2 linked regions of the Homo sapiens genome follow. The protein of the gene in region 1 interacts with the protein of each later gene in a pairwise test. Each region holds a gene or a part of one and is shown in the gene's direction. Other genes may lie near its edges.

Region 1 (3,920 bases):
GAAACCTTGTACAATATTGAATGTTCAGGCCAAAGTTTAGAATACTGTACTCCAAGAAGCATTTTCATTCCAATTTATAGGCTGCAAATGGTTTAATTGGGATTCATGTTGCTCAGGAGGCTCATACAGAGAATAGTAATGATAAAAGTAAAAAGCTCCTGTATTTGCAGTCTTGTCAACACTCTAATGGCTGCAGTGTAAATCCATAAATTTGCCTCCTGTATTTTTACCTCACTATATTTGATCATAATGCATTAATTTCAAACAGGAATATAATTTGCAATTCTTTACAAATATAAGGTAATATTCTGGTTTTTAGTTTTACCTTTTCTGATTTAAATCTGATATTTTAGAGTATTTTTATCAAGTGTATGTTTCCTATGTTTTTCAATTATTTTAAATTAAGTGAAGCATTTAAGATTATTTTAGTCTAAACCTTTTTTCTCCCTAGAGTATAACTTTTAAGGGATTTGTTTATAGTTGATTAAGCTCCTCCCTGCTGTTTACCACTATGCTTTCTAGTTAATAAATCTTCCTGTTCTACCATAGCACAGAATTCTCTCAACTGTGAAGTCTGCCCTTGTTGATGTGATTTCTTGGGAACTAATTTCTTAAATTTGGGTGTGAGTAACTTTTTGAAAATGATAACATGCCTTTAGTTGATAGCATAGACTATGACCAAAGTAGAATATTATAAAGTAATAACTTTCTGTCTTGTAATTTGAATCTAAGCATTGACCCCCAGATTGAGGGCCATTCTCTGGAAGCAAGTTTATGCCAATAATATGTCTTCTCACTGAATGTTTTCTATGTCTGTCACTGGGGAGCAGGGGGCTAGTTCCTTTTCTCATTCCAAATAATCAGTTTCAAAAATCTTATATTGGCATTGAATAAGAGCTTTAACACTCAGACCTACCCTGTTAATTATCCACTTTGAAATCTTACAGTAGTCTGTGGAACGTTAAGTACGTGTGTTTTTTTAAGCATTAGGCTTTAATTGTATTCATTGCCTTAAAAATAGAAAAGGGTAGTTTTATTAGGTACCTATTAAGATATAATCGTTGCTAATCATGACTTTCAGTAAGTTAGTATTTTCTTCTGATAAATATGTCCTACATAGATTATAGCCATCATTGGGTTCTGGGCATCAGAGTATCCTCGTTCCTTATACAGCTTCGTCCACTAAGTTCACACTATCAATGAACTTTAAAAGTTTAAAACTTAAAATCTTGAGTTTACTGCCTCACAAGCCAGAGCTGTGCCCTCAATAGAATAACAATAGCAGGAGTGGTCTTTTCTCCCCTCTCCCCCTCCACTTTGTTCTTCCAATAAACCTAATCCTGATACTGCCCACTGTTTGAAAAAGTGCCTATGGATTTTATCCTATAATCTCTCTATTGATAGACTACATATCAATACATACACGCTAATGTAATGCTACATTTGTATTAAAGAATTGCATAATTTTCCTTTCTGATGGTCAATAGCATACTAATCAATACAAATATTAAGTCTGTACTAGTATTAACATTCCCTCCCCACATATAACTCAATATACATATGCACATTTATCTATGACTCAGATGCTGGAAAATCATAACCTATTAAATTACTTTTGGGATTGATTTTGAAAATTTATCTTATATGAAAAATTAAATTTGAGCACTACAATGCTTGTGAAGAGTATTGCTTTTGGAAGATATTATTCTTGAAACTTGAAATTCATTTTACTTTGTTTGTATCTCACTACACATAAATAAATTTGAGATAAAAATACATTAGTCAATCTGGCAGACATATGAGACCGGTTATGGAGTATTCACAATGCCTAAAGCAGTGGTGTATCTGTCAAAGGAGGAAAAAGTGGGAGAAAAGGAGGTATAGGTTTGTTTATCTCAAGTTGCAAAGTAAATGCAAAAGTGACTCATCGACCACTCTGTTTTAGAGGTAGATTAATATTTTGCCTTTATACCTTGAGATACTTTTATTTCCTATTGATCTTCCACTATAAGGGTGACTCTAACAGCACCTTTAAATTCCTTCTACCTATTCTTTATCTAAGGTAGTTTATGGTCAATAATAAAGGAATAATAAATGCCTTAGGGAAACTATTTTAAAGGAACCTATTTGTGAATTATTTTTTAAGCAGTTTTTTGGTATTATTAGTGTTTCCGTATTCTCTAATTTATCTGTTAAAGTGTGTATATTAGATTTTCTTAAGAAGGGGCACACATCTATCAACATTCTAAATCATTTTAGGTCATATAAGTTTAAGAAATAAGTAGTTTATTGTAAAAAAAATTATTTTATCCTTGCTAGATGATAAGCTTCTTGAAGGCAAATATAATAGCTTAAGGATCCTGGCTTTAACCTTCTATAGCCTCTTACACATGAAAGGTATCCCCAGGCTCTGTGGAGAGAGAGAGTGTCCCCGAGAGAAGGCTTCCTGAGGTAGTTTCATTTTCTAGGTTTTCATCATGAGTGATTGTTTCTGTGTTCTGTGCCCAATAATAAACAGGCTTTGTGTTATACCTTAATTTAAATCGTTGCCTAACAGCATTTTAAAGTGTCCAGAAACAAAAAGATGAAAATGTTTACATTTGCAGCTCAAGCTCTTTTAACTTTATAAATAGAAATAACATTTCTAAGAAGTTGCATACAAACGACATTGTACTTACACCAGTCTAAAGGTTAATATTGCATATTGTTTTCAATTAGGAATACAATAGATATGGCTGGTGGGTAGGAGAAATGAAGGGAGCCATTGGCTTGGTGCCTAAAGCCTACATAATGGAGATGTATGATATTTGAGAGTCCTGGGTAAGTACATTTTAATCCAATATTCTGTAATAGCTCATATGTTCTCTTGGTCTCTTCGTTATGAGTCTTTGCCTTTTTAAAAGTCTTTAGAGTTTTCTGATAACACAAAGATTGTGCCCCGAAATCTTTTTTGTTTTGTTTGATCTGGTTTAATTTTTAAAATAAGAATTTTTAAAATAAAAACTTTATGGAATTTACTTTGGAAATGAATAGATTATTTAGAGAAAGTTCTTTTGATAGTAACCAGCTGTTTTCCCAAACTTCCTCCTTTTCAGTAAAATACCACTTTTTATGGCCTTTCTGAAGAGTTGAATTGACAAAATGTTGAGTAAAAATACATTTTTCCTTGGCTAAAAGTGTAATTTTTTTAAGCAGGAAAAATCAAGTTTCAGCTGAATCAAAAATTAAAATGCAGCTTTCCCTTTCTCCTGCAGAAAAGGAAAATTCTTCTGCTTGTCTGCAAATGCTTTGGATTTAGAAGCGTCATGAAAGCACGAGTGACAGCTCCTAACCTCTCCTTGTTTTATTAAACATTACTTATCTTTGACTGTTATTTTATGCAGTCGCTCATTAAAATATTCCTCTGATGTGAAATTAAATGAAGGATATTAATGTAAATTAGATGCAACCAGTTAAGTTATACCTGTTGCTATTTTGCAAAGAAATAATTATAGTTTTTATTTACCCATTTGATTTGTGTGAAGAATTCATCACTATTTTATACGTAACATATAGTCTACTATAGCATAGTATGCTACTATTGCTACTTCTGGTGTGATTTGTAATGTTTCTTAATCATTGGACATCAATTATTTTTAGAGAGTAATGTATAATTTCATAGCATTTTAAATTTAGTGTATCATGCGAGTTTTTTTTGGTAGATGCTGAAGAATGTGGTTGCTAAACAAAGAATGCTAAAGAATGTTCAAACTTTATAGATAACTTTATTGTTATTATTTATTTTCACACATTTAATTCCTATTAAGTACAGCCGCAAGAAAGAAAAAATGATGAAGTTGCAAATGGCAGTGTGCTGTCACCTGCAACAGAAGTGCGTACCAGAAGTATGACTCATGCAAAGCATTTTACCGTACAAATAT
Region 2 (3,920 bases), on another chromosome or scaffold:
GGATACTGGCCTGAAATTTTCTCTCTTTTTTTTTTTTTGTTGTGTCTCTGCCAGGTTTTGGTTTCAGGATGATGCTGGCCTCATAAAATGAGTTAGGGAGGAGTCCCTCTTTTCCTATTGTTTGGAATAGTTTCAGAAAGAATAGTACTAGCTTTGTACCTCTTTGTACCTCTGGTAGAATTCGGCTGTGAATCTATCTGGTCCTGGACTTTTTTTGGTTGGTAGGCTATTAATTACTGCCTCAATTTCAGAACTTGTTATTGGTCTATTTAGGGATTCATCTTCTTCCTGGTTTAGACTTGGGAGGGTGTATGTTTGCAGGAATTTACCCATTTCTTCTAGATTTTCTAGTTTATTTGCTTAGAGGTATTTATAGTAATCTCTGATGGTATTTTGTATTTCTGTGGGATCAGTGGTGATCTCCGCTTTATCATTTTTTATTGTGTCTATTTGATTCTGCTCTCTTTTCTTCTTTATTAGTCTGGCTAGCATTCTATTTTGTTGATCTTTTCAAAAAATCAGATCCTGGATTCATTGATTTTTTGAAAGGTTTTTCATGTCTCTATCACCTTCAGTTCTGTTCTGATCTTAGTTATTTCTTGTCTTCTGCTAGCTTTTGAATTTGTTTGCTCTTGCTTCTCTAGTACTTTTAATTGTGATATTAGGGTATAGATTTTAGTTCTTTCCTGATTCCTCTTGTGGGCAGTTGGTGCTATAAATTTCCCTCTACACACTGCTTTAAATGTGTCCCAGAGATTCTGGTATGTTGTGTTTTTGTTCTCATTGGTTTCAATGAACAACTTTATTTCTACCTTAATTTTATTATTTACCCAGTAGTCATTCAGGAGCAGGTTGTTCAGTTTCCAAGTAGTTGTTAGGTTTTCTGTCAGTTTTAATCCTGAGTTCTAATTTGATTGCACTGTGGTCTTAGAGACTGTTTGTTATGACTTCCGTTCTTTTGCATTTGCTGAGGAGTGTTTTACTTCCAATTATGTGATCACTTTTAGAATAAGTGCGATGAGGTGCTGAGAAGAATGTATATTCTGTTGATTTGGGGTAGAGAATTCTGTAGATGTCTGTTAGGTCCACTTGGTCCAGAGCTGAGTTCAAGTTCTGAATATCTTTGTTAATTTTCTGTCTCATTTATCTGTCTAATATTGACAGCAGGCTGTTAAAATTTCCCACTATTATTGTGTGGGAGTCTAAGTCTCTTTGTAGTTCTCTAAGAACTTGCTTTATGAATCTGGGTGCTTCTGTATTGGGTGTATATATATTTAGGATAGTTAGCTATTCTTGTTGCATTGATCTGTTTACCATTATGTAATGCCCTTCTTTGTCTCTTTTGATCTTTGTTGATTTAAAGTCTGTTTTATCAGAGACTAGGATTGCAACCCCTGCTTTTTTTTTCTGCTTTCCGTTTGCTTCGTAAATATTCCTCCATCCCTTTATCTTGAGCCTGTGTGTCTCTTTGCATGTGAGATGGGTCTCCTGAATACAGCACACTGATGGGTCTTGAGTCTTTATCCAATTTGCCATTCTGTCTTTTACTTGGGGCATTCAGCCTGTTTACATTTAAGGTTAGTATTGTTATGTGTGAATTTGATTCTGTCATATGATGCTAGCTGGTTATTTTGCCCGAAAGTTGATGCAGGTTCTTCGTATCCTCGATGATCTTTACAATTTGGTATGTTTTTGCAGTGGCTGGTATTGATTGTTCCTCTCTATGTTTAGTGCTTCCTTCAGGAGCTCTTTTAGGGCAGGCCTGGTGGTAACAAAATCTCTCAGCATTTGCTTGTCTGTAAAGGATTTTATTTCTCCTTCGCTTATGAAACTGAGTTTGGTTGGATATGAAATTCTGGGTTGAAAATTCTTTTCTTTAAGAATGTTGAATATTGGCCCCTACTCTATTCTGGCTTGTAAGGTGTCTGCAGAGAGATCCTCTGTTAGTCTGATGGGCTTCCCTTTGTGGCTAACCTGACCTTTCTCTCTGGCTGCCCTTAACATTTTTTCCTTCATTTCAACCTTGGTGAATATGACGATTATATGTCTTGGGGTTGCTCTGCTCGAGGAGTATCTTTGTGGCGTTCTCTGTATTTCCTTAATTTGAATGTTGACCTGTCTTGCTAGGTTGGGGATGTTCTCCTGGATAATATCCTGAGGAGTGTTTTCCAACTTGGTTCCATTCTCCCCGTCACTTTCAGGTACACCAATCAAACGTAGACTTGGTGTTTTCACATAATCCCATATTTCTTGGAGGCTTTGTTAGTTCCTTTTCACTCTTTTTTCTCTAATCTTGTCTTCTCCTTTATTTCATTAAGTTGATCTTCAATCTTTGATATCCTTTCTTGTGCTTTATCGACTTGGCTATTGATAATTGTGTATGCTTCATGAAGTTCTCATGCTGTATTTTTCAGCTCCATCAGGTCATTTATGTGCTTCTCTATACTTGTTATTCTAGTTAGCAATTCCTCTAATCTTTTTACAGTGTTCTTAACTTCCTTGCATTGGGTTAGAACATGCTCCTTTAGCTTGGAGGAGTTTGTTATTACCCACCTTCTGAGGCCTACTTCTATCCATCCGTCAAACTCATTCTCCATCCAGTTTTATTCCCTTGCTGGCAAGGAGTTGTGATCCTTTGGAGGAGAAGAGGCATTCTGTTTTTTTGAATTTTCAGCTGTTTTGCGCTGGTTTCTCCTCATCTTCCTGGATTTATCTACTTTTGGTCTTTGATCCTGCTGATGTTCGGATGGGGTCTCTGAGTGGACATACTATTCCTTTCTGTTTGTTAGTTTTCCTTCTAAGAGTTAGTGCCCTCTGCTGCAGGTCTGCTGGAGTTTGCTGGAGGTCCACTCCAGATGCTGTTTGCCTTGGTGTCACGAGTGGAGGCTGCAGAACAGCAAAGATTGCTGCCTGTTCTTTCCTCTGGAAGCTTCGTCCCAGAGGGGCACCCACTGGATGCCAGCCAGAGCTCTCCTGTATGAGGTGTCTGTTGGCCCCTACTGGGAGATATCTCCCAATCAGGATAAACGAGGGTCAGGGACCCACTTGAGGAGGCAGTCTGACTCTTACCAGAGCTCGAGCACTGTGCTGGGAAATCCACTACTCTCTTCAGAGCTGTCCGGCAGAGATATTTAAGTCTGCTGAAGCTGCTCCCATATCCACCCCTTCCCACAGGTGCTCTGTCCCAGGGAGATGGGGTTTTATCTATTAGTCCCTGACTGCCTTTTTTTTAGAGTTGCCCTGCCCAGAGAGGAGGAATCTAGAGAGGCAGTCTGGCCAGAGTGGCCTTGCTGAGCTGAGGTGGTGGGCTCTACCCAATTCGAACTCCCAGGCAGCTTTGTTTAGACTGTGAGGGTAAAATGCCTACTCAAGCTTCAGCAATGGCAGACGGCCCTCCTCCCTCCAAGCTCGAGTGTCCCAGGTCGACCTCAGACTGCTGTGCTTGCAATGAGGATTTCAAGCCAGTGAATCTTAGCTTGCTGGGCTCCGTGGGGGTGGGACCCGCCAAGCTAGACCACTTGGCTCCCTGGCTTCAGCCCCCCTTCCAGGGGAGTGAATGGTTCTGCCTTGCTGGCATTCCAGGCACCACTGGGGTATGGAAAATAAAACTCCTGCAGCTAGTTCAGTGTCTGCCCAAATGGCTGCCCAGTTTTGTGCTTGACACCCAGGGCCCCAGTGGCGTAGGCACCGGAGGGAATCTCCTGGTCTGCAGGTTTCAAAGACCATGGGAAAAGTGCAGTATCTGGGCTGGAGTGCACCGTTCCTCAGGTACAGTCCCTCATGGCTTCCCTTGGGTAGAGGAGGTAGTTCCCTGACCCCTTGTGCTTCCTGGGTGAGGTGACACCCCACCCTGTTTCAGCTGGCCCTCCATGGGCTGCACCCACTGTCCAACCAGTCCCACTGATATGAACTGGGTACCT

What was found.
Region 2: the proteins of SKAP2 (region 1) and FRK interact in a protein complementation assay, tested with the Homo sapiens proteins (one study listed by BioGRID).

The regions. Positions count from the first base shown.
Region 1 is NC_000007.14:26,668,991-26,672,910, reverse strand, and holds part of SKAP2 (src kinase-associated phosphoprotein 2), read left to right. Parts: intron 1-2,718; coding exon 2,719-2,811; 3' UTR 2,812-2,820; intron 2,821-3,254; 3' UTR 3,255-3,920. UniProt on the Homo sapiens protein: May be involved in B-cell and macrophage adhesion processes. In B-cells, may act by coupling the B-cell receptor (BCR) to integrin activation. May play a role in src signaling pathway.
Region 2 is NC_000006.12:115,935,140-115,939,059, reverse strand, and holds part of FRK (tyrosine-protein kinase FRK), read left to right. Parts: 3' UTR 1-3,920. UniProt on the Homo sapiens protein: Non-receptor tyrosine-protein kinase that negatively regulates cell proliferation.